Linked DNA regions of Homo sapiens. The protein of the gene in region 2 purifies or fractionates together with the protein of the main gene of each other region. This does not show direct contact. Each region holds a gene or a part of one and is shown on either strand. Other genes may lie near its edges.

Evidence for each region. Proteins that work in one complex are often made in the same cells at the same time.
Region 1: the proteins of KRT73 (region 2) and GAN purify together in Homo sapiens (affinity purification with mass spectrometry; one large-scale study listed by BioGRID and IntAct). This does not show direct contact.

The regions. Positions count from the first base shown.
Region 1 is NC_000016.10:81,321,462-81,324,961, forward strand, and holds part of GAN (gigaxonin), read left to right. Parts: intron 1-3,500. UniProt on the Homo sapiens protein: Probable cytoskeletal component that directly or indirectly plays an important role in neurofilament architecture.
Region 2 is NC_000012.12:52,612,060-52,615,559, reverse strand, and holds part of KRT73 (keratin, type II cytoskeletal 73), read left to right. Parts: intron 1-220; coding exon 221-281; exon of another isoform or gene 282-885; coding exon 886-981; exon of another isoform or gene 982-1,707; coding exon 1,708-1,872; exon of another isoform or gene 1,873-1,996; intron 1,997-2,730; exon of another isoform or gene 2,731-3,219; intron 3,220-3,500. UniProt on the Homo sapiens protein: Has a role in hair formation. Specific component of keratin intermediate filaments in the inner root sheath (IRS) of the hair follicle.

The sequences.
Region 1 (3,500 bases), on a different chromosome or scaffold from region 2:
ATAATTTAGGATTGAAGTAAAATGCTCTTCCACATAGAAACTCTGGTTCCTTAGGATTTATATTTGGATGATATAGAGTAAGCATCCAGTTTTCAAAACCGCCTTATCCATTGTTTAAAGTGTTAATGAGTTCTTATGATATCAAAGTGGGACTTAAAATCTATTTATAATTTGTAAGGAAAACATAATTAGGACAAATAAGGGTTCATTTGGTCTGTGAGTGCCATGCAATAAGTTCTTCACAGGGTTGCATCATCCTTCTGAAAGACACAAGACTATCATTTTGTGTACTAAAGCTGTAATATAAATGAATGATTTGTGAGTTTGAATTCTGGGTTAAGGGTGGAGATACGGGGGTGTGAGATGTGACACGTGGCAGGCTATGGTTGCGACCTTGCATTTGAGCGCTTCCCATGGGTTCTCTTCCTCCTAAGCCACAACAAATCCAAAGAAGGAAGGAAATCAAAGGCTCAGGTAAAGGTGGCAGCTCTGGCTCTGTGGAGGATAAAGATTCTATGTCCATCTAGATGGCCCGACACTCTACCAGAGTTCCTGATTCTGGTGCTTGGAAGAGCAGAGTTAAATCATCTTCCTAAGTACTTAGGGCCAAAGAGTGACTTAGCCATAGAATGATGGTCAGATGTTTGCTGCATTCATTTCTCTCTGGGAATGTGAATGCCCTAATTTCTCATAAAGATTATTACAGAAATACTGCAAAATAGAAATACGTAGTACTTTGCCATTTGCTATTATAGTGAAGGGATTTGGACTTTTCCTCTGTTCAAATAAGTTAGAAAAATGGAATACTTAGGTAAATAAGATCTTGGTGAAATATTTTGTTGGTTATCTCCAGTGTTCACCACATGCAGAGGAGATAAGACATCTCAGCAGCGGCTAGGTACTAGCAAGATGGTGGCAACCAACTGGCAAGGCCTTTGCCCTTCTGGAGCCTCCATTTCAATAGAGTAAGGCTTAGAGGGCCAATGCGTATCATAAATGGAAGATAGGAGGACTAGTTTTTAAAAGTTGACTGTTGAATAATGAAATACAGACCAATTAAATATCTTTGGGGTTTATTTGGATTTGAGTTTTTATAGAAACTTAAATGTATATTTTTGCTCGTAGATATTTTGTGGTTCTCTCAACTACAAAGTTGTTTATGTTTTTAAGAACAATTTTAAAGACCATTTGATGCTTGTGATTTTTATGGTAACATATTAATATGACTAGATATATTTTGAAACATAGTTTTATGGTCCTATTAGCATTCATCAGTAACCAGTTGCCTACACCTCTGAATAATAGTAAATGGTTTAGTATTACTGAGCTCAAAATATTTGCACTTTTGTCACTTAAATTGTTTATATTGATCAGTCCCTGAATTGTAAGAAACTTCATACTGAAACCTCACATTTAGGCTGTGAGTTTGATATGAGTCTTTTCTAACCCACAGAGAACATTCACTAGAAATGAAGCCAGAAGTTTAAGGACAGCGGGATTTTGAAGGACAATGAAAATCCTTAGAAAGTTCCCTGATATTCGTGTTTGCCATTCTCCTCTCCATGCTACAGCCCCCAGTCTACTTCAGTGATGGAGCTGGAGGCCAGCAGGACCCATTGGTTAATTGTATAGTCTTCCATTTGGTTAGTCCAGGGAATAGTTTCCCACAACTTCTAGCTTCTCTTCCTTACATGAAAGTTGGTACAGGGATTTGACACTTAGTATAACAGATAAGAGACTTCTCTCGGGGTTTTTGGTGGGTTTGTTTGTTCTCCTGCTTGGCCTCCTTAACAGCTACTGTCTTGTGCGACCAAAGCTATCAACTTTGTTCCCCGCCTAAAAATTACAATGCCTGCTGTTGGTAGGAAAGGAATAGACATCTCATTTTTATCACCCCCTGAGTGGGGTGCTTGAGCAAAAGAGGTTACCATTTCCTTTATTTATAGGCTTCTTTCATAGTGATCAGAAAAGGGGTTATGAAAATATTCACTGTCATAATAAGTCTTGGGACATCCTTAAGAAATGTCATCACTGCCTTAACCCATATGCTGTGGGGTTGTGTTTACCAATAATAGATTGCAGTTCAAGAATTAGCATTGTCTAAAGTTATTGAGATATACTGTGTATTGTTTCTTCACAGATATATTTCACAGTAAAGGGACCTTCTATATAATTAGGGTGTTGTTTAGGGAGTTGATTACAGGTTTAGTCGTTTAATACATACACAGGAGATAACTCAAGACATCTCAGCAGCATCTATGTACTGGCAAGATGGTGGCAACGAACTGACAAGGCCACTGTCCTCCTGGAGCCTCCATTTCAGTCATTTACAGAGGATTGCGCCCTCCAGGACTCCATCCTCTTGTGCTGCCTGCCATTGGAGCATTGTATTCAGTGGCCTCCCACAGAGAGTATCAAAACTAACCCAGTATGTGGAGACCTATGTCAGTCTATTTATTTTTCTATCTCTGTGGGGCTGGAGAAGGAAATAAACATAAAACTAAAGATTTAAAGATTACTTTTGATTTCACTTAGTTTTTTTATAACATCCTTGTGTTATGGGTAGTTTCAGAATCTCAAGAATGAGCAGAGAATAGATTTGCTGTGTTTATCAGAGTAGAAACTTCTGATAGTCTGCCCTAAAAGAATTTAATTGGCTGATTTGACCCTTTATTATTATAGTGTTACCCCAATTAATCACATTTACAGAAATGACTTTCTTTAAGTAGAGAACATCAGTTCTTGGCTAAGCCTCTCTAATATGCCCGTTTGTTCATTGCCCTTTCTAGACGGAGTGCCAGCATCCATGGGGGCTACCTGGGGAGGTGAGCAGTAAAGGGGTCTAATTACAGAGCCATATGAGTTTGCCGAAGGAAGTCCACAGAGGATGAGCATGGCTGCTGCTGTGGCCTGGGTGACGGGATCCCTGCTCCGAGGTGGTGCCATTGAAACTGAGATCTGAGGGAGGAGGAGACCTAGGCATGAGAAGAGCAGGGGGAGGCACCAGGATCAGGGGTGGCACCAGGACTAGGTCAGGCCTCTCTGGGAACAGAACACCACATACCTGGAGATGGTGAGCAAAGGGTGGGATGGCATCGACAACAGATTAGAGGCTGGGAAGGCCTGTGATCCCTGAGTTAGAGCTGGCATTTAGACTGCTTCCAAAGAAGATGAAACTTCTGCTGCCATGTTGTGTATTGGGAGCTGGCTGGGGAGGTGATAGGATATGAGAAAGGGACAAAAAAGCAATTGATGGCATAGTTGAGTCTGATAGAGAGTTTAGGCTTTATCTTACGGGCTATGGATGGGCAGTGGTGTATTTTAAAAGAGGAATATTTGTTTGTGTATTGTTTTAAAGTCACTCCAATGCAGTGCTGCTGGGTGTGCTCTATAAAAGCCAAGAGTGGAACCAGCGGCCGTTTCAGCAGGTGCTGCAGTTGTTCAGATGGAAAGTGGGATGCCCTGGGCCAGGTTTGGCAGTGGAGGCGGACACAGCAGCT
Region 2 (3,500 bases):
ATCAGACCTCAAACCACCCAGGCTCAGGAGGAGGTTACTTCATACCCGGCCTCCAACTCTGGCCAAATAGTCCTGGTGTGTTGGGATGGACTTGCAAAGGTATAGAATAATACCTCTTAAAAGGCATATAATATGGGTATCTCTTTTCTCATTTCACTATGAGAACGTATACACACACACACAGACACACACTCTGCTTCCTGTGATGCTTTCCCTGCAGGTATGAAGAAGAAATAAACAAGCGCACAACTGCTGAGAATGAATTTGTGGTGCTTAAGAAGGTGAGGAGGGTGCATGGGTTCCCTTCAGTCCCCCAGCAGTGGGTGCTGGGCTAAGAGAGAGGAGCAGCTGAGGTCTGAGCCCCCCGCAGAAGGGCCTGGAGCCAAAGTGCTGAAGGAGGAGATGAAGGGCTTGCTGCTTGGGACATTTTGGGACACCTGGTGTTGGTTTAGCACACAGTACTTTGTCTGTGGACAGGAACCTAGATGTGGATAGTCAGTCCCAACTCATGTCCCCTCTGGCTGGGGAACAGGACAGGCTTTGGGAGGGGCTGCAGGTTTGCCTTCCAACTCTGCTAGTTTCTGGCAAATCGCCGTGGCTGTCCTTGCCTCCCTCTGTTGGCTGAATGACTGGCTGAGTGGGGTATAGAGTCTCACACCCTTCTCTGAGAAATAGAGGCAGAAGGAGTTCCAGAGGCATGAGAAACTTGCCCCAGGTTTCGCAGTGAGTCTGACAGTGAAGTTGTGGCTGGAAGGCCGGTTCCTGCCCCTTGGATCTGAAGTCCTGGGCAGCTAGCTAGGGCAGGGCCTGCAGGTGTCAGTTCGCTGGAGAGGCCTGTCTGGGCTTGAAGAAAGGTGAGGTCAGGGGTATCTGGATTCTCCATAGGACGTGGACGCAGCTTACACGAGCAAAGTGGAGCTGCAGGCCAAGGTGGATGCCCTGGATGGAGAAATCAAGTTCTTCAAGTGTCTGTACGAGGGGGTAAGGCTCCCCCTGCCCCACCTCTGGCTCTGTCTTCTGGAAGGACAGATATGTGATGAACAGTTTCTTACTTATCTGTAACTTAAGCAGTCCAGGGCACCTCCAGCATTGGGGTGCTGAGAAATTTGTAGATCAAAGGTGGGAGTGGCCATCTATCCTGGTGCCCCATCCATCCCTGACTGCCCTGAGGATGTCCTGCTTTCACTTCCTCCAGGAAAACAGAGTCCTTAAAGGGTTCCCACTGAACTTCAGCCAAGCATATTCTCATTCCTGCTTCTCTTCTCTCTGTGGCTGGGGATGTTTCCTGGGGTCTTGGGCAGGAATCCCCAGGGATAGAGGTAGGAAGTCCTCATACCCCTTCTGCCTTCTCTATGTACATCTGGTTTCAAGCCTCAACCTATTGGCCAAGCATTTCTGGGCTCCTGTGCCCCTTAGTGTCCCATGTGTGGCAGCCAGGCTGTTGTCTTCCACCTTCCCCACTCCTGTCCTGTCTCAGGGGACAGACATATGGGCTGTTTTCTTCCTGGGCTGCTTCAAACCCATTCAGCAGTTTTCAGATGTGGTATTGGAACCTCTGGGCTGTGAGCTCTGTTCTTACAAGCTTTGGGAAGTGCAGCTTCCATCTGTGTGGGATGGTCTAGGGCCATCCCTCTGGGACAGGGCCATCACCTTGGGACCTTTCTCTGGTCACAGAAGGCATTTCATGCTTCCTTGTTTCCCCTGCAGGAGACTGCTCAGATCCAGTCCCACATCAGCGACACGTCCATCATCCTGTCCATGGACAACAACCGGAACCTGGACCTGGACAGCATCATTGCTGAGGTCCGTGCCCAGTATGAGGAGATCGCCCGGAAGAGCAAGGCCGAGGCCGAGGCCCTGTACCAGACCAAGGTGAGGCCGCAAAACTCCCCATAGTGAAGTATGCAGGGCCCTCTGCTCCAGACTCTGTCTTGTCTGCCCCATGACTCACTGTGGTGGCCCATAGCTTGCTGGGAGCACAGCACTCTCCTGGGCACTGGGGGAAGCCAAAGGGGAGGAGAAGACACAGCTCTGTCCTTGGCACCCACTTAGATCAACAGCACCCCTGGAGGATGCACTCAGCTGAGTGCAGGTGAATGTGGTGTAAACAGAGTCCAGACTGAGGAACTAGGACCAGGTGGGGCAGGTCAGAAACCACTCCCTGGAGGCAGAGAGTTCTGTCTGGAGGGGAGAAGCCACATGAGTAGTTGGCATCTCAACTCCCCCGCTAATTATCATAAATGAGGGGGTCTCTTCAGTGTGATCTGGAATCAAGTAATTTCTACCTTTTCATTCAAGTCTAACTCCAAGGATAAAGCAGAAGTTTGAGGCCTCAGATCTTAACTCCCCTAATGGTAGTGGGTGGGAAGTGATTCTTTAGATAATTTGGTTTCTCAGATCAAGATGGCAACTTCCTGATTGTTCCTTGCTGTTTATCAGGCTCTTTCTCAAGGGAATCCACACTCTTGGGAGATCTTATCTCATCCCTCTCCCTGCCTCCTTGCTAGCCTGCAGTGGTGGAGGAGAGAGGCTTTCAAGGTCTAGGAGACATAGGCTAGGGCTTCTTGGTAAAGGTTCAAACTCAACTCTTCAGTCCCCAAAGCCTTCCACATTAGTGTTGCAAGCTAGGGTCAGGAATGCCCAGAATCATAACAGTATTATTATTGCTTATTTTGATGATTCCTTTTTAAAGATAAAGAACGTAGGGCCCAGGGAGTTCAAGCTACTTACCAAAGGCAATAGCTGACAAGTGACGCAGCTGGATCAGAATCTAGGTGACTGACTTCAAATTCCACTGCATTTAGGCAGAAAATCAGAAGGTGACTCTGGGAAAGAAGCATTTACTCTAAGGGCTTTGTGTGGCTTGACAGAGGAGTGGCAGGAAGATGTTCATCTGTTTGCCTCAGAATGAAGCTGCTTGGTGTCAGAACCAGTGTACGGGGAGGCATCCTGCTCACACAGCCTTGCGGAGAAGCAGGAGAAGGCCCCTTGTTTAGGGTTGGCACCAAAGATAAAATACAAGGAGTGAAGAGAGAAGCCCTTCTGCCTTCTCTGCTTTCTGGATAACTTGACATCTTTAGGAACAATCCTAAATCTTGGGCCATGCTGGGGTGGAGCACCCAGTGACAGAGACAGAGCAGTACACCAGAGTGCTGAAGGGTCCCTGTTTTGTTTTCCCCTTGAGCCACATTCTGAGTAGAACTGATGTACTCTCTGTGACTGTTTAATAGATGACAACAAAGACAGAAATAATCCCGAATTAGTAGATGACCTAAAATTCATGGCTAGTGGTTTTGGGGTATAGCTGAATCCACCCCCATCATGCACACAAAATGTTCCTCCATGCTAATCCCTCCCTCCATCCCAGCCCTGGAAAGCTGCCTGTGGGCTGGGGCCCAGCTAAGGTATCAAAGGGAGGGAGTCACAGAAAATACAGATGGACAGCTCATTGGCTCACTCATTCATTCATCAGACTTTTTTTGAGCACCAACTAGGCACTA